7 linked regions of the Homo sapiens genome follow. The protein of the gene in region 7 purifies or fractionates together with the protein of the main gene of each other region. This does not show direct contact. Each region holds a gene or a part of one and is shown on either strand. Other genes may lie near its edges. The genes, in order: SEC24B, SPTLC2, ADCY3, TMEM201, NUP155, GRAMD1A and SLC27A5.

Region 1 (4,078 bases), on a different chromosome or scaffold from region 7:
GGTACAGAAGTATCTTGTTTCTATAACCTACATGCTGCAGGTGGCAGAGTGGAAAGAGAAAAAAGGATACCAAGAACAGCGGGATCCACTGCATCCACCTAGACTTGTGATGTGAGGAAAATACCCCCTTTTTGTTTAAACTACTATTAGCTGCTTGTATCTGAAAGCATTTCTAAACGACATAGCAATGAAAGAGTAGATGATCTCAAATGTACAGCTTGGGTCTAATATTAAAGTTCTAATTTTAAATAATCTCATTGTCCAGAGAAGGATATCTTTCCACAGCATCTTTGACACATGGCTATCCAGATAATGATACACAATCTAAAGGCATCATTCCAAAAGTTACCACAGCTTTACCAATTCCCATTTTTTACATGCATTTTCATTCGGTTCAAAAGCAGATTCTGTTAAATTCAAGTCACAAATTGAATTAAAATGAATATATCCTAGGGAAAGGAAACACTGCACTTAAAAAGCCACATTGGGCCAGGCACAGTAGCTCGCGTGTTCGAGACCAGCTTGGGCAACATGGCAAAACCCCATCTCTACAAAATTAGCTGGGTGTGGTGGCGTATGCCTGGTAGTCCCAGCTACTTGTGGGGCTGAGATGGGAGGATCGCTTGAGCCCAGGAGGTCAAGGCTGCCGTGAGCTGAGATCATGCCCAGCCTGGGTGATAAAGTGAGACCCTGTGTCAAAAAAAAAAAAAAAGGGCAAGCCACGTCTTACATACATAATTTTTAAATGAAAAAATTTAACAACACCTTGGTTTAGGAAGGTCAGAAGGGCTGAATACCAGGGTATTCTTCATGCATCTTCCTTTCCCTTCCCCATCTTTCAGCCTAACTTACTAATCTGAAAATGAGAAACACTGTTTACGTGCAGGAAAGATGTCTTCTGCAAAAGTCACTAATAGGGGCTAACTTGGGGAAACCAGTGCACTGCTGCAAACCATCCTTTTTTCTAAGTAAGTGGGGCTCTGGCTAAAAAAACAACTGTCCCAAGGTTGAACTAGTATAAAAGAGAAAATAGTGGCCAACATATCCTCAAAACAGACCCTTCCATTTTGCCCTGTATCTAATTCACATTAAAGACAACTATTGCAGATGTATAAAATATATCAATAAATGTTGACTGATCATGGCAAGGAACCAAGCTAGACAAGGCAGATGGTTGGGTGGCTAATTGGGAATGGATGAGAAGAAAGGGTTCAAAGAGGTGCTACAAAAAGCCACAATAAATTAGCAAACTTCCAGTTTTTCTATTAGGCAATATCACCTCTAACCTTCATGTAAATAATAACTTAATTGGGAATGCACTGATTTTCAAACATGTTTTGGTGAACTTTTCATTCAACCTACCAGTAATGGTTGGGTTGTTGTTCGCTACAGCCAGGGATCCTGTGTGGTTTCGGATGAGATTGTCTTGAGTCGATGGAAGGCCTGGAGATGACCACGTTAGAGTACTGTATCCTGAAAGACTTTGCTGCTGGTGGTGCTGTTGTGATGGTAGAGGTGGAAGTGGCGATGGATGGCTGATAGCTGTATTTTGACCAGAGAATGAATTATCTTTAACTGGCCTAACAGTCGGAGCATTCTGTGAGGTAAACATTTGCCCATATGTATCACCAGCAGGCAGAGAGGGATATGAAACACTAGGATACGCGGCATTAGAAACAGTTGACATAGCATAATGACCACAAGTAGAGGGAAATCCCTGAGACGCAACAGAAGAGCTGGCAGAGTACATGGCTGGACTATTGTAGTGATTCACAAAAGAGGAGTATGGTTGGGAGGCACTCGTATGCAAATGGGATGCTGACGATGCAGCACCTTGGAAAGATCCTAGAGTGGATCCCACAATATGAGGGGCAGGAGGACCCCTGCTGTACAACTGCTGTGCTCCTGGTTGCTGGTTCACTGTGTTAGGAGTCACATTTTGTGTTGGTACTGTATAGAGAGCAGAGTAGTAATCACCACACTGGGTATCCAATGGCAATGAGGTCATTTTCCCAGGTCCTTGAGAGTAATGTCCTGAGGGAGCAATATAGTTTTGATGATGCAATCCATATCCAGATGGAACCTGCATTTGATTCTGGGCTGGACCTGAAAAAGCAAGTATTTACAGGTATTTGTAAAGAGATAACTAATTTTTAAAAATAGCCCCCATTTAAATATTGAAGCAATTAACTTTCTTTTCCATAATCCCAACTTATTACAAAAGGTATACACTGTTATAGACCCATTATGGTAGCCTGCCTCCAACATGGCCCCCAATGATCCCCACCTCCTGTTATTCACACCCTTGTAGTCCTCCCTCACAATGTACCAGGACTGGTCTGTATGAACAGTAGCATACGGCAAAGGTGATGATATGTCACTTCCATGTTAGCCCAGTCTTGAGCTCTGGCTCTCTTTCTCTCAGATACCCCAGTCTGAAAGAAGCTAACCTGCCAAGCCGTGAACAGCCCTATGAAGAAGCCCATGCAAGGAGGAACTTAACTCTCTGGCCAACAGCCAAAGAGAAACTAAGATCTGCCAACAACCACGACTGAGCTTTCAGGCAGATCCTCCAAACTCAGTAGAATCTTGAGATAACTATAGCCCAGCCAACAGGTTATCTCATGAGAGACCCTGAGCCAGAACCACCTAGCTAGGCTGCTCCCAAGTTTATCTTCCTGAGAAACTGTGAAATAAATAGTTGTTGTTTTACAAGTTGTTAAGCTTAGGGGGTATTTTGTTATGCAGCTATCAGTAACTAATATACCCATCCTGGAAGAAGTTTAAACTTTGAGACAGGGTCTCGCTCTGACCCCAGGCTCTATAGAGTGTGATGGCTATAGAGCGCGATGGCATGATCATGGTTCACTACAGCCTTGTTCTCCTGGGCTCAAGCAATCTTCTCACCTCAGCCTCCCGAGCAGCTGGGACCACAGGCGTGCACCATGGTGACCAGCTAATTTTTACTTATTTATTTTTTACAGAGACAGGCTCTCACTGTGTTGCCCAGGCTGGTCTCCCATACACCACGGCCCAGCCAATGTTTCTAAATTTATTTTCTTGTAGAGACAGGGTCTCACTGTGTGCCCAGGCTGGTCTTAAACTCCTAGAGTCAAGTGACTCTCCTCCCTCAACCTCCCAAAATGCTGGGATTATAGGCATGAGCCACTGCACACAGCTAAAACTTTTTTCTCAGTTTTTATTTTTCCTAACTAGAAAAGTAACAATATACCCACTGTAGAAAAAATTCAAACAATAAAGAGTATGAATTAAAAATCTCTGCCTAGTAGCTTATATCCTATTTCCCAGATATAGTTACAGTTAATGCTTATGCATCCTCTGTATATCCATGTATCTATGTAATGCATATGTAAGCATGTATATAATTTACTTGATTTTTTAAACACACAAAAAGGATATTACAGTTCCGCAACTTGCTTTTACTTAATATATGCTGAATATCCTTAAGTATTAGCATATATAAATCCTCATTATTCTTTTAAAAATTTACATATAGTACTTTATTGTAGAGATATAACATTATTCACCAAATCTCCATTGATGAATATCTTGGGGTTGAACTAATCTATATTTATGAGGTCAACTTTTATGATGAAGCTATAAGACAAATTTCTAGAAGTCAAACTGGAAGTTCAAAAGGTTTATGTTTTTAAAATTGACATTATTGGCAAATATCTCTTAAAAGGTCTATCAATTTATACCTCCCATCAATAATGCTTCATATTGCCTCATTGTCCCAATACTGACTATATATTAATCTCTGCCAATCTGAAAAGTGAGAAACACTTTAGTTTACAGTAGTTAACTTTGAATGATGCTGAGACTCTCATTTGGGTGTCTTTCTCTGCTGTTTGCTTTTTCTGTAGCATTGCGATTTCCTTAATGATTTCTAGCTGTTCTCACACAGTAGAAAATTAGCCTAATGTTATGTGCTGTAAGTATTTCCCCCAGGTTACTGTTATGTTTTCACTTTGTTCATGGTATCTTTTGCTATAGTTTCTTGATTATGTAGTAAAATTCTTTTTTTATGCTTGACAGATTTTTAAATCATACTTAG
Region 2 (4,078 bases), on a different chromosome or scaffold from region 7:
ATATACACATCTAAAAATACAGTGTACAAGTGTAAATTAGCCAGTGTACAAGGGAAAGGCTTTTTTTTTTTTTTTTTTTTTTTTTGAGACAGAGTCTCGCACTGTCGCCCGGGCTGGAGTGCAGTGGTGCGATCTCAGCTCACTGCAACCTCCGCCTCCCAGATTCAAGTGGTTCTTCCGCCTCAGTCTCCCGAGTAGCTGGGATTACAGGTGCCCCCCACCATGCCTGGCTAATTTTTTGTATTTTCAGTAGAGATGAGGTTTCACTGTGTTGGCAAGGCTGATCTCAAACGCCTGACCTCCCAAAGTGCTGGGATTACAGGTGTGAGCCACCGCACCCAGCCAGGAAAGGCTTTCTTAAGTTTATTACTAGGTATTTTCTTCTTTTGAAAATTGTAAAAGAAATTTTCTTTTCATTTGTTCATTGCTGGTGTATAAAAGCACTAATTTTTTGTGTGCTGATCTTTTACCCTGCAACTTTGATGAATTCATTTATGAGCTCTAGCTGTGTGTGTGTGTGTGTGCGCGCGCGCGCATGTGTGTGTGTGTATTTTACAGCACTTTCTATATACAGAATCATGTCATGAGGCCCATTATTAAATGAAAATTAATTTGTATCTCATAATGGTCTAGTACACGTTTAGTTCCATAAAACATCATAAGACAAAATGACTTTAACAAATCCATGGTTTCAAAAAATGCACTTTATGCTTTAAAAAACTAAATGGGAGGCAAAGCCCAACAATCCCTCAAGAGAATCTTATGAAAAGGATTAGAACTCTCAGTTGGCAAACATACTTGTTGGCAACAGAAATCTCCTTAGATATCCTAAGGAGATATCCTGGTTACATCTAAATTCTTTCATGAATGTGTACAGTTCTCAGAAGTCAAAGTTGTGGTCAGAAGGCATGGATTACTGCCATAGACACTGGTTATAGTTACACAGACTTTTTTTTAAAGGCACATTGAAATTCTGAGTTAACAGGTGAACATGAGAAAGAAAAAAGAAAATTCTTAAAACATCAATAGAGTAGGAAGGAAAGAAAAGCTGAAATCTCTAGGTTAAAAAAAATCATCACAGAAATTCACCAGTAAAATTTCTGAGAAATGAGAAAAATCCATTGGAAAAATCTGACAGGCATAATCAAAATAAAGAAAAAAAAGATACAATATCAAAAAGTTGAATCTAATTGGATATTGTCAGAATGTAATTAAGAATATGCTCACAACACTGTGCCTATAGTTAACAATACTGTATTCGACATGGAAAAATTTGTTAAGAGGACAGATCTCATGTTAAGTGTTCTTACTACAATTTTGTTTTTTAAAAGGGAATACACTTATACTCATAGAAATTTTGCTGTGTAGAAACAGAGAAGAAAAGTCAAGTCTTCGGCTATTCAGGAATACAAAATGTCCATCAAATTGTTATAATTAACTTTTATAAAGAAGCATTCATAATGTTCTTTAGGATTAGTAGCTCTTGCCAGGCAGTGGCTCACGCCTGCAATCCCAGCACTTTGGGAGGCTGAGGCAGGCGGATCACCTGAGGTCGGGAGTTCGAGACCAGCCTGACCAACATGGAGAAACCCTGACTCTACTAAAAATACAAAACTAGCTGGGCATGGTGGCGCATGCCTGTAATCCCAGCTACTCAGGGGGCTGAGGCAGAATTGCTTGAACCCAGGAGGCAGAGGATGTGGTGAGCTGAGATCACGCCATTGCACTCCAGCCTGGGCAACAAGGGCAAAACTCTCTCTCAAAAAAGAAAAAAAAAATTAGTAGCTCTCTAACTCATTAATGGATATTTCTAGCAACTAATTTTATGCAAATGTCATGTTCTAAAGCTTTATAAACTCCCAGATGGCAATAATGATTTAAACTCTGAAATCTTAGACTTGCAACAATAACATATTAAGAGAATATATAGAGATGAGAATATCTTGAGATAATAAATAATTAAGCTTAGTAATAATGATCCCCAACTAGATGCCTGGCAGTGTGGTGGGTGCTGGGATATAGAATCAGTAAAACAGACTTATTCCTATCCTCAATATTTATCTAATGGAGAAGACTGCTATTAAATAATTATAGGTGTGAAGAATTTAGTAAGGGAGAATCTCAGGATTCCAAGGGAACACAGAGCAAGAAGGTGTGGGGCGCCCCTGAGCAATTTTCCTTTAAATGGAGATGTGAAGAATGAGTGGCAGTCAGCCAGGCAGAGGGGAGAGAAAGCTCAAGAGAGAAAATTTTAGACAGAACAACATATGAGAAAGCTTAATGTAGAAATAGCTAGAGTGGAAAGAGAATTGTAGAGTCCATAGTGAGGGAGACAGTAGAGCAAGACAAAGCCGGAAAATTCTCCAGAGCTCTCATGATGCAGGTGTGGTGGGTGACAGTTTTTTTGTAAATGCCAATGTTTTTGGTAGCACTGTCACCCCCTCTGTCTTAGGTGCTCACAAGAACATCAAGATCAATATATTATGAATTTCATCTAATATACAGGCCCTTTTAATAAAAGGCATATTTATATCAAGGTGAAAGTGCCTACTTACAGTATCAAGTATTTCTTTGGTATGAGCTGCTGACAGGCAAAACCTGGCTCTGGACTCAATAATTGGGGTGGCAGGAAATCCAACCACAACGACACCGATGTTCCGCTTCAGCATCTCCCGTCCAAAGGCGCTGCAAAGGGGAAAACAAGAACAGAAACCAGGAGGAGTGAAAAAGCACTCATTACAGAGGACCTGCTGTCCTCAAAGATTTCAACTCTTTGGTGATGCAGGCATTGGAGACTTCTAATAGGAGTTTCCTTTAACTCCTTTTAAAGTTAAAATTGACAGCTCACAAATACTTTTAAAGTCAATCCTAAAGCAGTCTTCTCCTATATGGTGTCCTTCACAAAACTGAAATAACCAGCCTGGGCAACATGGTGAAATCCCGTCTCTACCAAAAATACAAAAAATTAGCTATGTGTGGTGGCATGCACCTGTAGTCCCAGCTACTCAGGAGGCTGAGGCATGAGAATCTCTCGAAGCTTGGAGGCAGAAGCTGTAGTAAGGCAAGATCACACGACTGTACTCCAGCCTGAGCAACAGAGCAAGGCTCTGTCTCAAAAAAAAAAAAAAGTGTCCCTGATATGTAATAGTGGTTCAGAGGCTTCAAAATGAACCTGTATTTAATTAAAATCTGGTCCTTGAAATGTTAAGCTTGGCAGTTTAACATTAATCCGCAAATTCTGAGGATTCTGCAGCTGTGGGGGATCTGCTGTAACACGGCACATCTTTTCTGCTAGCAGAATGGCTGACTGGCATGAGCTCTCCAGATCACACGTTTCTTTAATTGTCTTGGGAACAACACTGCTTCAGAATTCAGGGCTTCCTTTGGTGTCTGTCAGGCCAGTTCACCCGCTGGCTTCAGCTGATTACTCAGACCACACAATTCGTATTTAACAATCCCCCACCCCTATCGTAAGCCAAATTGGAGGCCCTGTGGCCTTACTCCACATCTGTATCTTGTCTAAATAACACATTCTAACTTTTAGTTAATTTTGTCTACTAAATTATGTGGGTTTTTTTTTGAGTCTCTCGCTTTGTCGCCAGGCTGCAGTGCAGTGGCACGATCTTGGCTCACCATAACCTCCACCTCCCAGATTCTAGCAATTCTCCTGCCTCAGCCTCCCGAGCAGCTGGGATTACAGGTGTGCACCACCACACCCAGATGATTTTCGTATTTTTAGTAGAGACGGGGTTTCACCATGTTGGCCAGGATGGTCTCGATCTCCTGACCTTGTGATCCACCCACCTCGGCCTCCCAAAGTGGGATTACAGGTGTGAGCCACTGTGCCTGGCCCAAATTATGTTGCTTTTTGTCTTTTCCTCTTATTGACCTCCCTTATGTTTCAACTTTTCCTTTAAGCTGTTTACAGCATTTGTTTGAGAATAAAAAAATGTGGCCGGGCCAGTGGCTCGTGCCTGTAATCCCAGCACTTTGGGAGGCCGAGGCGGGCAGATCACCTGAGGTCAGGAGTTGGAGACCAGCCTGGCCAACATGGTTAGACCCCATCTCCACTAAAAAA
Region 3 (4,078 bases), on a different chromosome or scaffold from region 7:
CGTAGGGTCTCCTGGTCCTAAAGCACGCATTCTGCTGGTCCTGGAGCACGCTTTCTACTGGAAGGGGTGGAATTTCGGCCTCAGCTTAACTATTATAGTATTGTGTTCCCACCAAGTGCCAGGCCCTCAGGGGCTGCAGAGACCAGGGGACCTGAGGGACAGTAGGCAGTGTGTGTCCCTGGGGAGCCAGCAAGCCGGTGACCAGAGAATGAGGCGGAGATGTCTGCATCTGGGTTTGGTGCCCAGCCTGCCAGCCTCGTGCCAATGATGGTCAAGAGAGGCTCCCCCACTTCCTGCCCCTGCAGTGCTCTGTCTGGTAGAGATGTCTTAACTCCCACGCCAGCTCTGTTCTGTGGTTAGTGGGGCTGGGGTAGAGTCAGCTCTGAAGCGGTGACCTTCTGGGTGTCAGGAGAGGCAGGGCGTGCCCAGAATCCTTGCTGACTGACGTGAGCCTCTAGCAGCCATGGAGGTCAGTGCCTGGGTCCTGGAGACCAGGTGCTATGTGCAGGCCCAGGGTGGACAGACAGAATCTTCCACTCCTCTGCTGATTTCTCCACTCATGTCTCATCCTGCTGATTTGTTCTAGAAATGGGTAGAGGATGTTAACATAGGCAGGGCCTGGCAGGGCATCTAGCCCAGACTACCCATTTTACAGAGGAGGAAACAGAGATGAGTGATAACTGGTTCACTGTCACCCAGCACTTTGGTGGCAGAAACAGGACGGGAGCCCAGGCATTGACCCCCAGCCCAGGGCTCATTTGTGTATGTTCCTTGGAGCACTGAGAGCTGCCTGAGAGCAGGAGCTTTGCTTCCCACCCCACCTCCTGGAGACAGTGGCTATGTGCTGCCCTGCCGTCCCCACCCCAAATCTCTGTAGAGGGGGCTGTGAGTTTCTGGTCATTGACTAGGTGGAAACACCAGTCATATCTCTTCAGGCCATGCATTAGCCAGTCCCAGGTTCTTTTTTTTTTTGAGACGGAGTCTTGCTTTGTTGCCAGGCTGGAGTGCAATGGCGCGATCTCAGCTCACTGCAACCTCCGCCTCCCAGGTTCAAGCTATTCTTCTGCCTTAGCCTCCTGAGTAGCTGCGATGACAGGCACGCGCCTCCACGCCTGGCTAATTTTTGTATTTTTAGTAGAGACAAGGTTTCACCATGTTGGCCAGGATAGTCTCGATCTCTTGACCTCATAATCCGCCCGCCTCGGCCTCCCAAAGTGCTGGGATTACAGGCGTGAGCCACCATGCCCAGGCATCCCAGGTTCTAAGGTCTGAGGTCTGAGGATGACTGGTCTCTCTAGCTCCATCTCCTCAGGTGGACAAGGAGCTTATTTTGAGGCTCCTGGAGCTTCCAGGGAAAAGGACTGAGAAGGTATGGCCACAGGGCTGGGCCGGGGCCTGGGTGCCCCACCACGTGGCTACTCGGAGATCACTTCTAAACTCATGATTGTTCTCCTTTGAGTATTGCTAAGACATAAAACCCTAAAACTTAGAAAACAGAAAAAAAAAGATAGAAATCAAGAATAAAAATATTAGCATCCCAGGGGAGCCTGACCTTGGCATGCAAGCAGTGCCTGGGAGGCAGCTTTGGGAACAGAGCAGGAGGGGCAGAGAGCTCTCAAGGTCCGATTGGGAGCCTGAGATCGAAGGCAGGAGGCCCCAGCTTACAGTGGGCTGTGTTCCAGAAGCTTCTGAGTCACTGGTTTGGGACTAATGTGACTTTTTAAAAGGTGCCTGGGTTCCCAGGCCCACCCACCAGGGTCTTCCTCAACTCACAGCATCCCGGCATTTGGCCTCTGAAGATGGTGGAAATGGGGCCGGGCATGGTGGCTCATGCCTGTAATCCCAGAACTTTGGCAGGCTGAGGCGGGCGGATCACCTGAGGTCAGGAGTTCAAGACCAGCCTGGCCAACATGGCGAAACCGCATCTCTACTAAAAATACAAAAATTAGCCAGGTGTGATGGGGCGTGCTTATAATCCCAGCTACACAGGAGACTGAGGCAGGAGAATCACTTGAACCTAGGAGGCAGAGATTGTAGTGAGCCGAGATCGCACCACTGCACTCCAGCCTGGGCGACAGAGTGAGACTCCATCAAACAAAAACAAAAACAACAAAAAACACAAGCTGCAGCAGCCTGTGTTGCTGTGGGGAGGGACACCCGGGACAGCGGTCTCCCCTGAGCCCTGGAGTGAGGTGTCATTCATCTCCCCTGCTGCCGTTGCCTCCTGGGATGTGGGCCCCATCAAGGATCGGGGGCAAGGGCTGGAGGACAGGATGCAAGAACCAGGGGACCAGGCCCCTTCTGGTCAGGGTAGGTCCCAGAACTTTCTCCAGACCCCAGGCACCGCCTTTCTCCTACCCATGTGCTTGCCCTTGTCTTTCTCTCTCCCATCCCCTGTCGGCTCTGGCTGGGGACTCCCTCCAGGGTCAGTGGGGGATGAACGCAGTTTCCCAGTTCGAAATAGACACCTGGATTTCTGGGTTCTTGTGAGTTTTGTGGTTTTGTTGCTGCTGTCACTGGCAGCATGAAGAAGCATTGCCAGTGTCAAAAGTCTTCTTCCTCTGCAGCCCTTATCCCCCCATGCCCATGCGCAGCTCTGTGGGGAAGGACAGAAGGTACACATGGGGCTGTTGGCAGCCTGAGAGGTCAGAGGCCAGCCAGACAACCTGTCCTGGGCTCCTCGCAGGAGGCCAGTGGGTGGGGTTCTGACAGGAAGAGCAGGTGATCAGGGAGTGTGGGATGGGGTGGGGCTGGGGCCCCACCAATGAGTTAATGAGTGAATATTGCCGAGCAGCATGGGCCTTGCAGCCTGCAAGGTCAGGGGATAAGGAGGATGAGGCCATCTGACACTCAGGCTGTGCTGGGGCGGGGAGGATGTTCTGAGAGCCACCTTGGGTGGGCAGAGACCTAGCCAATGGTTCTCACGACCCATCCTCTAGCCCCTGCCTGTCCCCCATTCCTTTTTTTTTTTTTTTTTGAGACAGAGTTTCATTCTTATTTCTGAGGCTGGAGTGCAATGGCACAGTCTTGGCTCACTGCAACCTCCTCCTCCCGGGTTCAAGTGATTCTGCTGCCTCAGCCTCCCAAGTACCTGGGATTACAGGTGGCCGCCACCACGTCTGGCTAATTTTTTTGTATTTCTAGTAGAGACAGGATTTCACCATGTTGGCCAGGCTGGCCTCGAACTCCTGACCTCAGATAATCCGCCTGCCTTAGCCTCCCAAAGTGCTGGGATTACAGGTGTGAGCCGCTGTCCAGAGGAGGGAACAGAGGACGAAACAGAGATGGGTGATAACTGGTTCACTGTCACCCATCACTTTGGTGGCAGAAACAGGACGGGAGCCCAGGCGTTGACTCCCAGCCCAGGGCTCATTTGTCTGTGTTCCATGGAGCACTGATTGCTGCTCCATGGGTCCCCCATCCCAAGAGGCAACACAGGCCCAGAGCAGCCGGAAGGGAGGACAGATGGATCAGGAGGAGCCGAGGCTGGCAGTGTTTGCCCATTTCGCTCCCCTGGCCTGGGTCCTGCCCCAGGACCTGTTACGGAATTACTTGCCCTTTACTGCCCTAAACTGCCCCTGGGCTGGGTGAGGAGGAAGGAGGGGACTGGGCTCAGGACCAGGACCTGCAGGACCAGCGGCCAATGAGTGCGGACAATGGGGAAGGCAGCCAGGATGGTTGGGGGTGGTGGTGGGCGGGGCGTGCCTTTAGCATTTGGCAAAGTAGGGACTAGGAACTGCTGACAAATATTTTGTACCCTTACTTCAGAGCAGAAAGGCTATTTGGGAGCAAAATTCTCTCATGGAATGAAGAGCCTGTTAAGACCTTTTTTCACCAAGTAAAACATGAGGAAGCTGTGGATGTGCAGTTTCTTTCACACCTGCAAATTACACAGCAATCATTCACCCAGCAAAGGAACATTTGCTCCTAGGGGCTGGAGGGAGCTGCCGTAGGGAGGGTGAGAGGAAACTGAGGCTTCCAGAGACACCCTGTCTGCAGACGGCAGGTAGCTGTTGCATGCACCTCATCCCATTTAATCCTGGATGTTACTGGCTCCATTTCACAGATAAGGGGACTG
Region 4 (4,078 bases), on a different chromosome or scaffold from region 7:
TCCCTTTTTGCAGATAAAGAAACTGAGGCTTGGGCTGGGCGCAGTGGCTCATGCCTGTAATCCCAGCACTTTGGGAGGCTGAGGTAGGCAGATCAGATCACGAGGTCAGGAAGAAACTTGAGGCTCACAGCAGGTGGTGAGAAGAGTCGGCACTGGGCATATTGTCCACTCCTCGTTCCATGCCCTTCTTCCCACAGAAGGGCCTGCTTTTCCAGCCATCTAGTCCCACTTTCTCCACTAATTGCAGACCCCAACTGCCTGTTCTCTCGATCCCAGGGATCACCAACCACGCTGCCTTTTCCTAAATCAGGCGCACGCACCCCAAGGGCAGGGGCCCCAATTCCAAGTGGCTGGCTGAGAGCTGAATGTGGGACCCAGGGACTGCCTCATGTCCTGTTGCCACCTGTGGGCTCTGAAGGGTCTGTTGCAGCATGCAGATAACCCTCCCCTCACCAGGCCAGGGGATAGGCTGGATAAGGGTGGTCACAAGGACCCAGCATGCCAACCAGGGTCCTTCTAGAATCCATTCTATGGATGCTGGGAGAGGCCGTCTTCCTGCTGGGCATGGGCTGCAGGACACAGGGATGAGGTGTGTGGCAGAGAAGCGGACTGAGGACAGACAGGGAGACAGCAAGCTGGATTCTGGCCACAGCACCTGAGCCCGGTCCAGCGCGTCTCTGAATACATGAGCCAAAGCCCTGCAGGAACTCCTGCCCCCGACCCACCCTCTGGCGATGGAGACCGGGCTCCTCCCCCCGACCCACTCTGGTAATGGAGACTGGGGTCCCATCTGTCACCGGACACTCCAAGACAAGCTTGCGCCCCAAGACCTCTGCTGCTACCTCAGACAGGTCGCTACTGTGTCCCTGCCTTGAGCCTTAACAGGGAGATTGCCTGTTCTTCTCTGTGGGCAGGAGCCCCTGCCTTGGAGGCCTGAACTGGCCCTGGGATTGCCACGCTCCCCTCCCAAGGGGCTTGAAACAGAAGTCCCTGAGCTCTGCCACCTTGGTCAGTGCGCACAGAGTTTACTCGGAGTGCTCAGGCCCAGGGCAGGGCTGCTCCTGGCACCTCCCACCCCAAGTTCCATTCAAGTGCCACCAGGCTGGGGTGCCCTGAAAATAGGGGGGTATCTCTGCTTAGGGGAAAAGCAAAAGCATCCTAATATAAACCTTGGCGTGTGTACAAAATGGCCTGCCCTGTAACTGCACGAGAGGAGAGGGGCCTTGGCTGTTATCAGCATCTCCTCCCCTAGAATAACTAGAGTGGCCCCCTTTGCTGAGGGGCATGTTGCAATTTTAGAGGAAAAGATTAGGGCACAGCACGGTGCACACATTTACCCAAGGTCATGTCACCAGAGCTGGGACTAAGGGGCCGTGCTGGGGCTCCCAGATGATATGGCAATTCTGGGCACTTTATTTTTATTTTTGTTGAGACAGGGTCTTGCTCTGTTGCCCATGGTGGAATGCAGTGGCGTGATCATAGCTCACTGCAGCTTCCAACTCCTGGGTTCAACCGATCCTCCCACCTCAGCCTAAATAGCTGGGACTATAGGTGTACGCCACCATGCCCAGTTAATTAAAACAACTTTTTTTGTAGAGACAGCGTCTCCCTATGTTGCCCAGGCTGGTCTTGAACTCCTAGCCTCAAGCCATCCTCCCACCTTGGCCTCCTAAAGTGCTGGGATTAAAGGCATGAGCCACCTATTCCTAGCTAGCCCCATTTCTTTGGGGGGAACTGAGGCTCAAAGCTCTGTGCTGCCTGTCTCTGCAGCAGGAACACTAACCACTCCCGGCCCTCCCTACACTATGTACCCATCCACAGTTCTGTCCCAGCTGCCCCTAGCCCTGACTGTCTGCCAATGCCTGGGCACCCCTTACCTGCTCGAGTCAGAGAGGGTATGGTTCCCAGAGAGAGGGCCCGGCTGAGGCGGCCAGGCAATGAGGAGGGTGAGGTCCGTCGAGGAGACCGGAAGAGCTGCTGGTTGGCGAGGGGCAGGAAGCTGGGCGGGCTGGGGATGAACAGAGACGCTGGAGAGCCTCCGACACTCGGGTGAGGGATGGCCAAGCTGGGGCTGGTGGGGAAAAGGCCGGCAGAGTCTCCTGGGAAGAACCTGCAAGGGCCCGTCAGGCACGGGACAAGAAGAGGGTCAGCGGGAGGTCCTGGAGGCAGCCTTGCAGTGGGTCCCACCCCTCTCCCACAGTGCAAGGTGGGGGCCTCAGCTGGGGTCCCAGAGGAGGCGTGCGTTAGTTAAAGCAGAAAAGCAATCCGACCACATTCACGCCATTAGGAGCGGGTGGCTGGGAGGTGCCAGCAAGACCCGGCCCTCCCCACATGCCCCCTCCTACCCCCTCGGCTCACAGCAAACTATCTCCACTACGAGTCTCGGTATTAAAGTGACACTGTCGCCTTTGCCAACCTCATGCCAACCCTTTCGCCTTGAAGCAAAAATGCCCAGCCCCGTGCCAGGCACTCAATGAAGGTTAATGGACTTGGACTCCTTGCCACTTCTTGTTCTGTGCCGAGCCTTCCCACAGAGCGGCCGGGCTCAGGGACATCCTGGCTCATCTCCCAGATGGGCCTGGATCATAGGAAGTCAGGCCCCAGCACGGCTCTGGGCACCCTCTGTTCCCAGGTGTGATTCCTGGAAGTCCTCCCACAGCTCTGCCCTTAGAAGGCTGCCTCCTGCTCTCTGGCCTTGCACTCTGGAAACTCCTCTGAAGTTCCTGGTAGAGCAGAACTGGGGGGCAGCCAGGCCTTGGAACCCCCTGGAAGAGGCTCTCACAGGACAACGCCAAAACCGAACTTAGAAGAGACCCATCCACGACCGCAAGGCTGCCCGAAAGACGGAAGGTGACAGTGTCTCTTTAACTCGAGATGGTACAAATCACACAACAGGACCTGATGGCCCCACGCCAGAACGTCAACCATGCTTCTGATTAAGGCACCCAATTACAGAGGGAAGAGAGGGACAGAGGCAGTTAATACATTAGTCCACCGTCTGGACGGAGCTCCGGGGGTCCAGCCTTACCTCGGTGCCAAGGGACAAATGAGCCCAGTGGACAACGTGCTGGTGAGCGGGCAGGCTGGCCCACGCCCTGCAGGAGCCGGGGGCTGCTTAAGGGACCTGCGCCCAGCATGACTGCATGCTCGGGGATCGCTAGCCAAGCCGCGCGCCACCAACCTCCCTGCTACTTTCCCTCTAAAAAAGTTTTATAAGGAAAGTGTGGGGCCAGCTCTTGACTTCCCGGAGAATCATGTAACCTTTCTAATGCCTTCCAAGGTGCCAGGAGACCACCTGGACTTCAGAACCAAAGGCGAGGCCATGTTTGGCGAATGTGGGCATCAAGGCAGGAGCTGAGCTGGGGACCCTGGGGAAGGCCCCGGTCAGCCGGACTGGACACATCCTTGTTCCGCCTGCTGACCTGTGATTCCCAGGCCCAGCGCCCGCTGCTTGCCCCCAAGACTCCAGGGAAGGCTCCACCTCTACACAGAAGATGAGGTTTTGTGTCGTCATGTTAGAATTCTGATTCCATTTGGCGGGACAGCGCAGCGACTTCAGGGAATGACCCTGAGGGCACCTTTAGGCAGGGGCAGTGAAGGTGTTGCTGGGACCTTGGGGCATGACCCTCCATGGGAGGGAGTTTGTGGGGCAGGGCTCTGCGCTAGGCTTCCTGTGCCCACCCTGCCCGGCAGCACAGACATAGCCAAGAGTCAGCCAAGGGTGACCAGGTCCCCCAGTGACCTGAGAGTACCGTTGGGGGATGTGTGAAAGGAGGGTCCTAGTGGGCTGTGGGTATGAGGTGGTCAGCTGGGCCACGCAGCTCCTGGCCCCAAAGGGTGGGCTCTAGCAGGAGTGGCTGGGTCTTGCCAGTGCATCCCCACTCCTCCCAGCTCCTGCTCACACCACCCGGGGCTGCCTCAGTGCTTAAAGGCTGAATCTCCTGGCCACCTGGCACAGGGGCTGTTGTTCCCAGTTTGGTGCCACTGAAGATGGTGCTGTGGGGAGTTCCTTCGCAGTTTGACTCCCTCACTGTGATATGTGGGAACATCACTCAACCAGCAAGACCTCGTAAATCGC
Region 5 (4,078 bases), on a different chromosome or scaffold from region 7:
TACCAGTTTCACACACTTATAAACATTTATATAAAGTATGTATTTGCTCTTTTATTTCTCTTTATTTTTAGGATCAATAAAATGGTATGGAAAGGGAACCGTTTCCATATTATACCTACAAAAGTAAGGGTATGAATAAAATGGTTTTATTTCTGACTATGTCCAGAGGGAATAGACCCTAAGTCAGAGATGGTCTGTAAACAAGTTTGAATGCTCATTTGAAAAAAAAAAAAAAAAAATTAGGCTGGGCACAGTGGCGAACGCCTTTAATCCCAGCACCTTGGGAGGCCAAGGCAAGCGGATCACCTGAGGCCAGGAGTTTGAGACCAGCCTAGACAACATGGGGAAACCTCATTTCTAATAAAAATACAGAAAATTAGCCAGGCGTGGTTGCAGGCACCTGTAATCCCACCTACTTGGGAGGCTAGGCAGGAGAACTGCTTGAACCTGGAAGGCAGAAGTTGCAGTGAGCCGAGATGGCATCATTCCACTCCAGCCTGGGCGACAGAGAAAGCCTCTGTCTCAAAAAAAAAAAAAAAAGTTATATTGTGAGGATTTTCATGTCTCTCAATATTTTTAAATAACACAAAAGTAGTTGATATTCTAATTTATGGATGTATTTATGTTGCTTCTATTGTTTTACCACTGAGGAAAACACTTGTAGGTTGGCAAATAGCTCATAATTAGCTACCTTATTTAAAAATTATAGCCACCATATCTCATTAAGAAAGGGATTCAAACACTAAGTTTTAACATAATTATTTGCTATTTTAAAGAAAAACATGCCCTCAACATAAAAAAAGAACAGTTGAATCAATCACAGATTACCTATGCACAAAAACATCAACCGTTTTTCTTTTCTCTTCAGAAACTTGTATAGGGTTACCAACAATATAATCATAGTTTGTCAGTCAGCACAATCCTAAGACAGGTAATATAAACTTGGAAAGTTAGTCACAGAAAGTTTCATACTCAACTCTTCATTAACAAATTCTGCCATTCTTTGGAAGTCTTTCCGGAGAGGCAGAATTAAAGTGCTGAACTAAATAGCAAAGAAACTCTTTATTTTACTCGAAAGATCGTTATTTGTCCATATCAACGGAGAAAACCATCAGAACAGAAAATACGTGACTGCACCTAAGATCACAGCTTACCTAAAGGAAAGAAGCGTGGTGTGCCAGCATAAATTTTGCCAAGGAGAACAATCTTGAGACTAAGAGCATGCATTCTATCCGAGGAGCTCAATGTCACACTGTCACTCAATTCTGTAACAAAAAGACATGTCATTTGAAACCCAAATTACTTTTAATGTGAAATGTTTACATTGGTTATTTAATTCTGTTTCAAGGTTCAAAATACTTTAGAACAGATAGTCACATTAATATGATTAACAGATTTGGTGTTTCTGTTATTGTCTGAGATACTCTCATGTCTTACCAGGTTATACTGGTTATTAGATTCTGAGGTGAGTGTCTCAGTATCTTTTATAAGGCAGCACAAATAATATAAATTAAATAACCTTTTCACTGAGTATTCTCCCGAATATTCACTTGGGTCATTCTGTGTATGATCATCCTCCACCATACCCAGGTGACTTCCACTTACTCTCTTCTTAGGTATACACAATTTTCATGAGCCACTAGCAGCTTGCATTATATTAGTTACTAGCAGCTTGCATTCCTCCACCAAGTCACTACATAACGTATGCTAACATACCTATAACTGAACACTTACCTTTCTCTATGATATCTTGCCAAAGTGTCTGCACCAATATAGGGTCTGAATAACCGGCACAATGAATTATTGCAAGTTTGCACTCTGCAAGTTTAAATGGGTCAGCAAATTCCCCATAAAGCTGTGAGAGAAAATCCCAAAATTAACATCCAACTAGAGATCAACATTCAGAGATTAATAGTGAAGCACTCCTTGAAAATTAAAAAATAACCAAAGATTTTACATAAAGTTTCTGAAATATGATATAAAGATGTGATGATGTATGTAGCTGGTTATAACTCCATATTTAAAAAGTTAAGGGTATGGGCCGGGTACGGTGACTCAGGCCTGTAATCCCAGCACTTTAAGAGGCCAAGGTGGGCGGATCACGAGATCGGGAGATGGAGACCATCCTGGCCAATATGGTGAAACCCCGTCTCTACTAAAATTTAAAAAAAAAAAAAATTAGCTGGGCATGGTGGTGCATGGCTGTAGTCCCAGCTACTCAGGAGGCTGAGGAAGGTGGAGGTTGCAGTCAGCTGAGATCACGCCATTGCACTCTAGCCTGGTGACAGAGAAAGACTCTGTCTCCCCCCGCCAAAAAAAAAAAAAAAGGGTAAGGGTATGGTAAATACATTCAAACACATTTTAGCATGTAGAGCTTTTTTCTTGGCTGGGAAGAAGATGTTGCAACGACATTCTATTTATTAATTTTAAAATTCATTTTTTCAAATTTCTGTGGGTACACAGTAGGTGTATGTATTTATGGGGTACATGAGATGTTCTGATACAGTCATGCAATGAGAAATAAGCATGTCATGGAGAATGTCTATTCCTCAAGCAGTTATCCTTTTGAGTTACAAATAATCCAATTACATTCTCTATTTTAAAATATACAGTTATTATTGACTATAGTCACCCTATTGTGCTATCAGATAGGTCTTATTCATTTTGTTTTTGTACCCATTAACCATCCCCACCTTCCCTACAAACCTCCTGCAATGGTATTTTAGAACTAGTGTTGTATAAACAATGGGTTGAAGAATCACAGGAATACTGACAAATCTCAAAGTGTTTCAGGGTACCTGGAACTATGTCTAAGAATAAATGAAGAGGAAGGAACTGCTCAGAAAATTACAGAGAGAGAAAGAGGTTTAGAGAGTTAAGCAAAGATAAGTTAGTTTTTCCAAGGCAAGAAGCGAGGCCATAAATAAGATGGTTTTGGTTTTTTAGTTTTTTTTTCTTTTTGAGACAGGGTCTCACTCTGTCACTCAGGCTGGAATGCAGTAGCACCATCGAGGCTCACCACAACCTGGGCCTCCTGGGCTAAATCAATCCTCCCACCTCAGACTCCTGAGTAGATGAACTACAACCACACACCACCACACCTGGCTAATTTTTTTTTTTTTTTTTTGATGGAGTCTTGCTCTGTCGCCCAGGCTCCTAGACTGCAGTGCCATGATCTCGGCTCACTGAAACCCCCACCTCCTGGGTTCAAGCAATTCTCCTGCCTCAGCCTCCCAGGTAGCTGGGATTACAGGCGCATGCCACCACGCCTGGCTAATTTTTGTATTTTTAGTAGAGACAGAGTTTCCCCATGTTGACCAGGCTGGTCTCAAACTCCTGACCTCAGGTGATCTGCCCGCCTCAGCCTCCCAAAGTGTTGGATTACAGGCGTGAGCCACAGTGCCTGGCCTTTTTTGCTATTTTTTTGTAAAGATGAGGTTTTGCCATGTTGCCCAGGCTGGAAATAAGCTGGTTTTAACACAGCTCTCATGCGAGGATGATAGGTTCTTTGTAGCTACTGGCCTGGAAAGAGTAGCTTAGCCTTTTTCTAGGAGTCAGATGAAGCAGTGGTGATCTGTCAGCCCAGTGACAAGCTGCCAAAGATGCCTTATCTTATTTGTGGAGATAAGGTAATTTTCCCCATGAAACAAAAAGCAAAATAAAAAACAAAAATTTCTCATTATTAGGTAACTACTATAAAAATTTCACTTGCTTTTTTATTACCTTAGTTATGTCCATCAGCTCAGAATCCAGCTGAGAAACTGCATCCTGTACAGAAGAATGATGGGAATACTGCCTTTGTAGTGTCTCCTGTATCTGAAGTTGGATCCTAGCAACCTAGTTTGGGCAGAAAACAGGATGTCTTAATTTATTTATGATAAATCAACATACGTTTGAAAGAACGGATCCTACTATCTGACTTTAAGTTTGCTAAAATAATGTATAAATGAAGATTTCTATCATAATAGGCTAATATTATCATAACAGACATCAACTAAACATAATAGATTTCACAGGAAGTATACTGTGGCAGACTCCTTGCTGCCCAATACTTATACCTTCCAAGACTGTAGCCAAA
Region 6 (4,078 bases), about 23 Mb from region 7:
TCTCTTTCCCTCACCGCCACATCCAATCTCTCAGCAAATCCTGTCAGCTAAACCTGCAAAATCTCTCCAGAATCTAAACTCTTCCCCCTCCATTTCCTCACCCTGATTCAGCCTCCGTCCCCTCCAGCCTGGATGTCCCAGCAGCCTCCTCCCTGGCCTCCCTGCTCCTGTACCTGTCTTTGCAGTCTGTTCCCACCAGAACAGAGGGAGCCAGAAGGAGCCTGGGACCACCTGAGTCAGGTCAGCGCCCTCCTGGCTCAGAGCCCTGGCCTGGTTGCACCTCACTCCAGGTAAAGTCAAGTCTTCACCATGAGCCACATCTGGTTCACCTTTTTTTTTTTTTTTTTTTTTTTGAGACAGGGTCTTGCTCTGTCGCCCAGGCTGAAGTGCAACGGTGTGATCATGGCTCACTGAAATCTCCACCATGTCTGGCTAATTTTTTAACTTGTTTTTTGTTTGTTTGTTTGTTTGTTTGAGACAGAGTTTCACTCTGTCACCCAGGCTGAAGTGCAGTGGCCCGATCTCGGCTCACTGCAACCTCCACCTCCTAGGTTCAAGTGATTCTTGTGCCTTAGCCTCCCAAGTAGTAGGGATTACAGACGTGCATCACTACCCCCGACTAATTTTTGTATTTTTAGTAGAGATGGGTTTCACCATGTTGGCCAGGCTGGTCTCGAACCCCTGACCTCAAGTGATCCGCCCACCTCAGCCTCCCAAATTGCTGGGATTACAGGCGTAAGCCACTGCACCTGGACCCTGGCTAATTTAAAAAAAATTGTTTTTGTAGAGACAGGGCTTCCGTACGTTACCCAGGCTACTCTTGAACTCCTGGGCTCAAGTGATACTCCTGCCTCAGCCTCCCAAAGTGCTGGGATTACAGGTGTGAGCCACTGTGCCGGGCCCCGGTTCACCACTTTAATCTCAGCTCCTACTCACTCAATCTTACTCCACTCCAGCCATTGCCCACACCCCTGCCTCAGGGCCTTTGCACCTGCTGTCCCAAATGAGTTGCTCTCAGCTCCTTCAGGTTCTTGGTGAAACATTTCTTTCCCAGTAGGCCCTTCCCTGACCAGCGTGTCGGGTGTAAAAGCCTCCACACCCTGCTTCTTTAGCCTGCCGTGTTTTCCTCATTTTTCTCCATAGGCCTAACTGCCAGTGAATGTTCTGCAGATTTTCCTGATCATTTCTCTATTGTCCAATTCCCCACTAGAATATGAGCTCCCTGAGAGAGGTGATATTGCCTGGCTTTGCTGTATCCTCAGAGTCTTGAGGCTCAAACACCCTCTGTAGATGGGAGGAGCCATCCCAGGGCCACTCTTCCTCTACCCTCCACTATTCGGAGGACAAGGGCCTCAGGAACCCCACGCTTCTGTTCCTCCACCAGGGTGGGAACCAAGGCTCTGCTGCTGACTTGAGGAGTGGACAGGAGGCCCTGGGGCCACCAGGGCATCGGGTGGAGGGGCCCAGCCACCACTCACCGGAGCCGCGCCTTGTTCCGGGCCAGACCCAGGATGCAGTAGCGGTGGGCAGTGTAGAAGTAGTCCTGGTAGGGGATGCCCTGCGTCAGCACCTCGGAGTCCACCACACACCCGCCGGCCTGGGGGCCGCGCCGGAACAGCGTCTGCAGGGACAGAGCCGGAGAAGTCAGGGCCACCCCACTCACCCAGCTGCCCCACCCACTCGGCTGCCCCACCTGGCCCACCTGTGTCTCCACCACGGAGGCGCTCTTGGGGCCCAGTGGGTTGCTGATGGGGATGGTGTACGTCAGCACCCGGCGCTGGTGGCACTTGCTGTCCCCACTCCAGGGGCTCAGCGTCACGTCTAGAGGAGGGAGGAGCAGCATGAGGAGGCCACACCCCAGTCCTTTGCCCACAGGCCACAGGAGACTCAGCCTTCTGGGAGGTCTCTCTGGGGACCTGTCCCAATCCCCACCACTCCTCTGTGTCCCCACCTTCCTTCCAGGAGCCTAAAACCTTAGCTGTTGGGGCAGGGCCATCTCCTCCACTGCTGCAGCCTCAGTTTCCCCCTCTGCACCCGTCTTGGCTTCTGCCCTGAGCATTGGACCTGTAATCTTTTGAACACCTTCCCCTGGAAGGTCCCTGGACCCCTCGAACCCACCGAGCTCCACACAGCCTCAGCATCTCCCCAAACCTGCTGCATCTCCCAGGCCCCCACTCAGGGGTGGCCCAGGGTCCTCCAGGCTCCCACTGGAGCGGTAGGCCTTGCCCTGGACACCCCCTACTCAAACCCCTAGATGGTTACCTACACTGTGTGTTCACCAAACCTCCTGAGCGTCACTCCTGGTTCAGCCCATCTTTGCCTGCCCAGTGCCCCTGCCAGCCTTCCCTTGAGTGTCTGGCCTCAGTCTCCCCATCTGGTCCAGGGGCATCTTGTTAAAGCCAAGCCTGACTCTATCCCTTCTCTGCCTAGAACACTCCATGGCTCCCCAGTACCCCTAGAACAGAGTCTGAGTTTGGTATAGTTTGGATATTTGTCCCCACCCAAATCTCATGTTGAATTGTAATCCCCAATGCCGGAGGTAGGGCCTGGTGAGAGGTGTTTGGATCATGGGGGCGGATCCCTCATGGTTTGCTGCTGTCTTCATGATAGTGAGTTCTTCCGAGATCTGGTCATTTAAGTGTGTGGCACCTCCCCTCCACTCTCTCTCACTTGCTCCCCCTTTGCCTTTCAGCATGATCAAAAGCTCCCTGAGGCAGCCGGGCACAGTGGCTCACGCCTGTAATCCCAGCACTTCGGGAAATTTGGGAGGCCGAGGCAGGAGGATCACCTGAGGTCAAGAGTTTGAAACCAGCCTGGCCAACACGGTGAAACCCCGTCTCTACTAAAAATACAAAAATTAGCTGGGCGTGACGGTGGGCGCCTATAATCCCGGCTACTCAGGAGGCTGAGGCAGGAGAATGGCTTAAACCCAGAAGGCAGAGGCTACAGTGACTCAAGACTGTGCCACTGCATTCCAGCTGGGGCGACAGCAAGAACCTGACTCAAAAATAAATAAATAAATAAATAAATATGTGTTAATGATCACAAATTTAATGTCCACTCTGTCAGGCCTATGCAGGGCTTGGAGGCCAGTGGGAGACCAGGATAGATGAACTCCTGTCCTTAGCACCCAGAATCTCTTGAGAACAACAGGAAATATCTATAAATAAAAACCACACACTACTGGCATGGTGTGAGTTAAGGGCAGAAGCTGTGAGTATCTGGGGGTATCTGGGATCTGAGGAAGGTAAGGGAAGGCTGCCAGGAGGATGTGAAATCAAAACCAAGGCCTGAAGGAGGAACTGAGGAAGGAAGGGGTCGGGGCAGAGGAGCCCAGGAGGCCGCGTGATACCAGTAAAGGCCCTGAGGCTGGAGGCCAATATTGAGAGAAGTCCCCTGAGGCTGGGATGGGGCAGCCAGGTATGGAGAGGGGCAGCCACAGCTCTGGGTGAGGCTGAAGGGTTGACATGGGACCAGCCAAGGAACTTGGGAGGCTACAAAAGAGATTCAAGCAGGGGAGGAGCGTGTCAGATGGGAGTTTCTCTTTGTTTCTTTTTCTGTATTGATGAGACATGCAGTATCCCCTGCAGTCAGGAAGATGGTGCCTTGTGTTGGGGGGCTACAAGGCCCCCAAAACTATGCTTATGTCCTAAAAGGGCTGGCGTGTCAGGCTGAGGAGCTCTGTATTAGGCCATTCTTACATTACTATAAATACCTGAGGCTCAGTAACTTATAAAGAAAAGAGGTTTAATGGGTTCACAGTTCCACAGGCTGTATAGGAAGCATGATGCCGACATCTGCTCGGCTTCTGGGGAGGCCTCAGGAGCATTTTTTTTTTTAATGGAGTCTCTCTCTGTCACCCAGGCTGAGGTGCAGTGGCATGATCTTGGCTCACTGCAACCTCCACCTCCTGGGTTCAAGCAATTCTCTCACCTGAGCCTCCAGAGTAGCTGGGATTACGGGTGGGCAGCATCATGCTCAGCTAATTTTTTTTTTTATTTTTGTAAAGACTGAGTCTCATTATGTTGCCCAGGCTGGTCTCCAACTTCTGGGCTGACATGAACTTCCCACCTTGGCC
Region 7 (4,078 bases):
CAAGCGATTCTCCTGCCTCAGCTTTCTGAGTTGCTGGGATTACAAGCACCCGCCACCACAGCTGGCTAATTTTTGTACTTTTTTAAGTACAGACGGGGTTTCACCATGTTGGCCAGGCTGGTCTTGAACTCCTGACCTTTCAGGTGATCCACCCGCCTCGGCCTCCAAAGTGCTGTGATTACAGGCATGAGCCTCTGTGCCCAGCCACATTTTTAATTTTTATTTTGGCTTGTCACTGACTCGAAGCTCAAATCACTCTTGATTACGATAAATGAATGCCCAGCTAAGCAGATGGGTGGGCAGGTGGATGGATATGGTGGATGGATGGAAAGATGAATGGATGGACAGTTAGAGTAGTGAGTGAGTAGATGGGTGGGTGGACAGAGTAGTGAGTGAGTAGATGGATGGGTGAACAGTTAGAGTAGTGAGTGAGTAGATGGATGGGTGGACAGTTAGAGTAGTGAGTGAGTAGATGGATGGGTGACAGAGTAGTGAGTGAGTAGATGGATGGGTGAACAGTTAGAGTAGTGAGTGAGAAGATGGATGGGTGAACAGTTAGAGTAGTGAGTGAGTGGATGGATGGGTGGACAGTTAGAGTAGTGAGTGAGTAGATGGATGGGTGGACAGAGTAGTGAGTGAGAAGATGGATGTGTGGACAGTTAGAGTAGTGAGTGAGAAGATGGATGGGTGAACAGAGTAGTGAGTGAGTAGATGGATGGGTGAACAGTTACAGTAGTGAGTGAGAAGATGGATGGGTGAACAGTTAGAGTAGTGAGTGAGTGGATGGATGGGTGGACAGTTAGAGTAGTGAGTGAGTAGATGGATGGGTGGACAGAGTAGTGAGTGAGAAGATGGATGTGTGGACAGAGTAGTGAGTGAGAAGATGGATGGGTGAACAGTTAGAGTAGTGAGTGAGTAGATGGATGGGTGGACAGTTAGAGTAGTGAGTGAGTAGATGGATGGGTGGACAGTTAGAGTAGTGAGTGAGTAGATGGATGGGTGGACAGTTAGAGTAGTGAGTGAGTAGATGGATGGCTGGACAGTTAGAGTAGTGAGTGAGTAGATGGATGGGTGGACAGTTAGAGTAGTGAGTGAGTAGATGGATGGCTGGACAGTGACATGCAGAGGCAGGGGGGTAGAAAGATGGATAGGTGGCTGGGTGAGGATCGTCACGCCTGTAATCCCAGGACTTAGGGAGGCCGAGGTGGGCGGATCACGAGGTCAGGAGATCAAGACCATCCTGGCTAACACGGTGAAACCCGTCTCTACTGAAAATACAAAAAATTAGCTGGGCGTGGTAGCGGGCGCCTGTAGTCCCAGCTACTCGGGAGGCTGAGGCAGGAGAATGGCGTGAACCTGGGAGGCGGAGCTTGCAGTGAGCCGAGATAGCGCCACTGCACTCCAGCCTGGGCGACAGAGTGAGACTCTGTCTTAAAAAAAAAAAAAAAGAAAAAGAGAAAGATGGATAGGTGTAAGGATGGATAGATGGGTGGGTGGATGAATGAATGAATGAGTGAGGAAGTAGGTGAGTAGGTAGATGGGTGGGTTGGTGAATGTTTGTATGGTTGTATTGACGTATGGACACATGGATTAATAAGATATAGGGGGCTGGGCGTGGTGGCTCACACCTGTTATCCCAACACTTTGGGAGGCTGAGGGGGGTGGATCACCTGAAAGATCAGGAGTTTGAGACCAGCCTAGCCAACATGGTGAAACCCTATCTCTACCAAAAAATGCAAAAATTAGCCAGGCGTGGTGGCGCACACCTGTAGTCCCAGCTACTCGGGAGGCTGAGGTGGAAGAATCGCTTGAACCCAGGAGGGGGAGGCTGTAGTGAGCCGAGCTTACACCACTGCACTCCAGCCTGGGTGACAGAGTGAGACCCTGTCTCAAAAGAAAAAGAAAAAAACTGAATCTAACAACACCTCTAGTTAAAGTTTCCAATTTAACAAGAAATGCAGATGAAAGGGGAACAGAGACCTACAAGCAAATACAATGGGGAGACTGTTTAATTGTTAAAAACAAACAAACAAACAAACAAACAAAAAAACAGCCAATTGGCTGGGCACAGTAGCTCACACCTGTAATCTCAGCACTTTGGGAGGCCAACGTGTTCAGATCACTTGAGGCCAGAAGTTCAAGACCAGACTGGCCAACAGGGCGAAACCCTGTCTTTACTAAAAATACAAAAAAATTAGCTGGGCATGGTGGTCCACACCTGTAATCACAACTGCTCAGGAGGATGAGGCATGAGAATCGTTTGAACCCAGGAGGCAGAGGTTGTAGTGAGCCAACATCACACAACTGTACTCCAGCCTGGGTGACAAAGCAAGACTCTGTCTCTAAAAACAAAACCAAACCAAAACAGCCCATTGGAGAAATCTGAACATAGACTGGACATCATATGATATTAAGGGGTTACATCATATGATATTAAGGACATCATATGATATTAATGTTGTTACGTGTAATAATCACTTTGGTTACAGTTTCTTCAGTGCTTATATGTTAGAGATATGTACTGCAATATTTACAAGCATAAAGATGCAGTGTCTAGGATTTGCTCTGATATATTCTGGAAAAAAATAGGGAAGTGGCTGGGCACGGTGGCTCACGCCTGTAATCCCAGCACTTTGGGAGGCCGAGGCAGGTGGATCACCTGAGGTCAGGAGTTTGAGACCAGCCTGGCCAACATGGCGAAACCCTGTCTCTACTAAAAATACAAAAATTAGCCGCTTGTGGCGGTGCGTGCCTGTAATCCCAGCTATTCAGGAGGCTGAGGCAGAAAACTGATTGAACCCTGGGGGGGGGGGGGGGGCGGGCGGGGCGGAGCTTGCGGTGACCCAAGATGGTGCCACTGCACTCCAGCCTGGGCGACAGAGCGAGACTCTGTCTCAAAAACAAACAAACAAACAAAAAAGAAACAGGGAAGTACATGTGAAATTAAACTGGCCCTGGGCGCGGTGGCTCATGCCTGTAATCCCAGCACTTTGGGAGGCCGAGGCGGGCGGATCACGAGGTCAGGAGATTGAGACCATCCTGGTGAACACCGTGAAACCCTGTCTCTACTAAAAATACAAAAAAAATAGCCAGGCGTGGTGGCGGTCACTTGTAGTCCCAGCTACTCCGGAGACTTAGGCAGGAGAATGGCATGAACCCAGGAGGCGGAGCTTGCCGTGAGCAGAGATTGCGCCACTGCACTCCAGCCTGGGCGACAGAGCGAGACTCCATCTCAAAGAAAAAAAAAAAAAGAAATTAAACTGGCAGCATGTTAACAATTATTGAAGCTGGGTGAAGATACCTGAGATGTCATCAAACTATTTTCACTTTTTTTTTTTTTTTTTTTTGAGACAGAGTCTCGCTTTTTGCACAGGCTGGAATGCAATGGCTAGATCTCGGCTCACTGCAACCCCTGCGCCCCGGGTTCAAGCGATTCTCCTGCCTCAGCCTCCCTGGTAGCTGGAAATACAGGCGCCCACCACCATACCCAGCTAATTTTGTATTTTCAGTAGAGACAGGGTTTCACCATGTTGGCCAGGCTGGTCTCAAACTCCTGACTTCAGGTGTTCCGCCGGCCTCAGCCTCCCAAAGTGCTGGGATTACAGGCGTGAGCCACCATGCCCCGGTAATTTTTGTATTTTAGGTAGAGACGGATTTTGCCATGTTAGCCAGGCTGATCTTGAACTCCTGACCTCAGGTGATCCACCAGACTCATCCTCCCAAAGTGCTGGGATTACAGGCGTAAACCACTGGGCACAGCCTAAACTTTTCATAATTAAAAAAACAATTTGGCCGGGCGCAGTGGCTCACGCCTGTAATCCCAGCACTTTGCGAGGCTGAGGTGGGCGGATCACCTGAGGTCGGGAGTTTGAGACAAGCCTGACCAACATGGAGAAACCCCATCTCTACTAAAAACATAAAAAAAAATTAGCCGGTCGTGAGGGCACATGCCTGTAATCCCAGCTACTTGGGATGCTGAGGCAGGAGAATCGCTTGAACCCAGGAGGCAGAGGTTGCAGTGAGCCGACATCGCGCCATTGCATTCCATCCTGGGCAACAATAGTGAAACCCCGACTCA

The links.
Region 1: the proteins of SLC27A5 (region 7) and SEC24B purify together in Homo sapiens (affinity purification with mass spectrometry; one large-scale study listed by BioGRID and IntAct). This does not show direct contact.
Region 2: the proteins of SLC27A5 (region 7) and SPTLC2 purify together in Homo sapiens (affinity purification with mass spectrometry; one large-scale study listed by BioGRID and IntAct). This does not show direct contact.
Region 3: the proteins of SLC27A5 (region 7) and ADCY3 purify together in Homo sapiens (affinity purification with mass spectrometry; one large-scale study listed by BioGRID and IntAct). This does not show direct contact.
Region 4: the proteins of SLC27A5 (region 7) and TMEM201 purify together in Homo sapiens (affinity purification with mass spectrometry; one large-scale study listed by BioGRID and IntAct). This does not show direct contact.
Region 5: the proteins of SLC27A5 (region 7) and NUP155 purify together in Homo sapiens (affinity purification with mass spectrometry; one large-scale study listed by BioGRID and IntAct). This does not show direct contact.
Region 6: the proteins of SLC27A5 (region 7) and GRAMD1A purify together in Homo sapiens (affinity purification with mass spectrometry; one large-scale study listed by BioGRID and IntAct). This does not show direct contact.

What each region holds. Positions count from the first base shown.
Region 1 is NC_000004.12:109,460,929-109,465,006, reverse strand, and holds part of SEC24B (protein transport protein Sec24B), read right to left. Parts: intron 2,107-4,078; coding exon 1,363-2,106; intron 1-1,362. UniProt on the Homo sapiens protein: Component of the coat protein complex II (COPII) which promotes the formation of transport vesicles from the endoplasmic reticulum (ER).
Region 2 is NC_000014.9:77,515,483-77,519,560, forward strand, and holds part of SPTLC2 (serine palmitoyltransferase 2), read right to left. Parts: intron 2,686-4,078; coding exon 2,556-2,685; intron 1-2,555. UniProt on the Homo sapiens protein: Component of the serine palmitoyltransferase multisubunit enzyme (SPT) that catalyzes the initial and rate-limiting step in sphingolipid biosynthesis by condensing L-serine and activated acyl-CoA (most commonly palmitoyl-CoA) to form long-chain bases.
Region 3 is NC_000002.12:24,913,575-24,917,652, reverse strand, and holds part of ADCY3 (adenylate cyclase type 3), read left to right. Parts: intron 1-4,078.
Region 4 is NC_000001.11:9,605,589-9,609,666, reverse strand, and holds part of TMEM201 (transmembrane protein 201), read right to left. Parts: intron 2,111-4,078; coding exon 1,878-2,110; intron 1-1,877. UniProt on the Homo sapiens protein: Critical regulator of angiogenesis and endothelial cell (EC) migration. Promotes the migration of endothelial cells, which is essential for angiogenesis.
Region 5 is NC_000005.10:37,297,714-37,301,791, forward strand, and holds part of NUP155 (nuclear pore complex protein Nup155), read right to left. Parts: intron 3,838-4,078; coding exon 3,724-3,837; intron 1,856-3,723; coding exon 1,735-1,855; intron 1,266-1,734; coding exon 1,155-1,265; intron 1-1,154.
Region 6 is NC_000019.10:35,016,934-35,021,011, reverse strand, and holds part of GRAMD1A (protein Aster-A), read right to left. Parts: intron 1,822-4,078; coding exon 1,703-1,821; intron 1,622-1,702; coding exon 1,479-1,621; intron 1-1,478. UniProt on the Homo sapiens protein: Cholesterol transporter that mediates non-vesicular transport of cholesterol from the plasma membrane (PM) to the endoplasmic reticulum (ER).
Region 7 is NC_000019.10:58,501,772-58,505,849, forward strand, and holds part of SLC27A5 (long-chain fatty acid transport protein 5), read right to left. Parts: intron 1-4,078. UniProt on the Homo sapiens protein: May mediate the import of long-chain fatty acids (LCFA) by facilitating their transport across cell membranes. Also catalyzes the ATP-dependent formation of fatty acyl-CoA using LCFA and very-long-chain fatty acids (VLCFA) as substrates.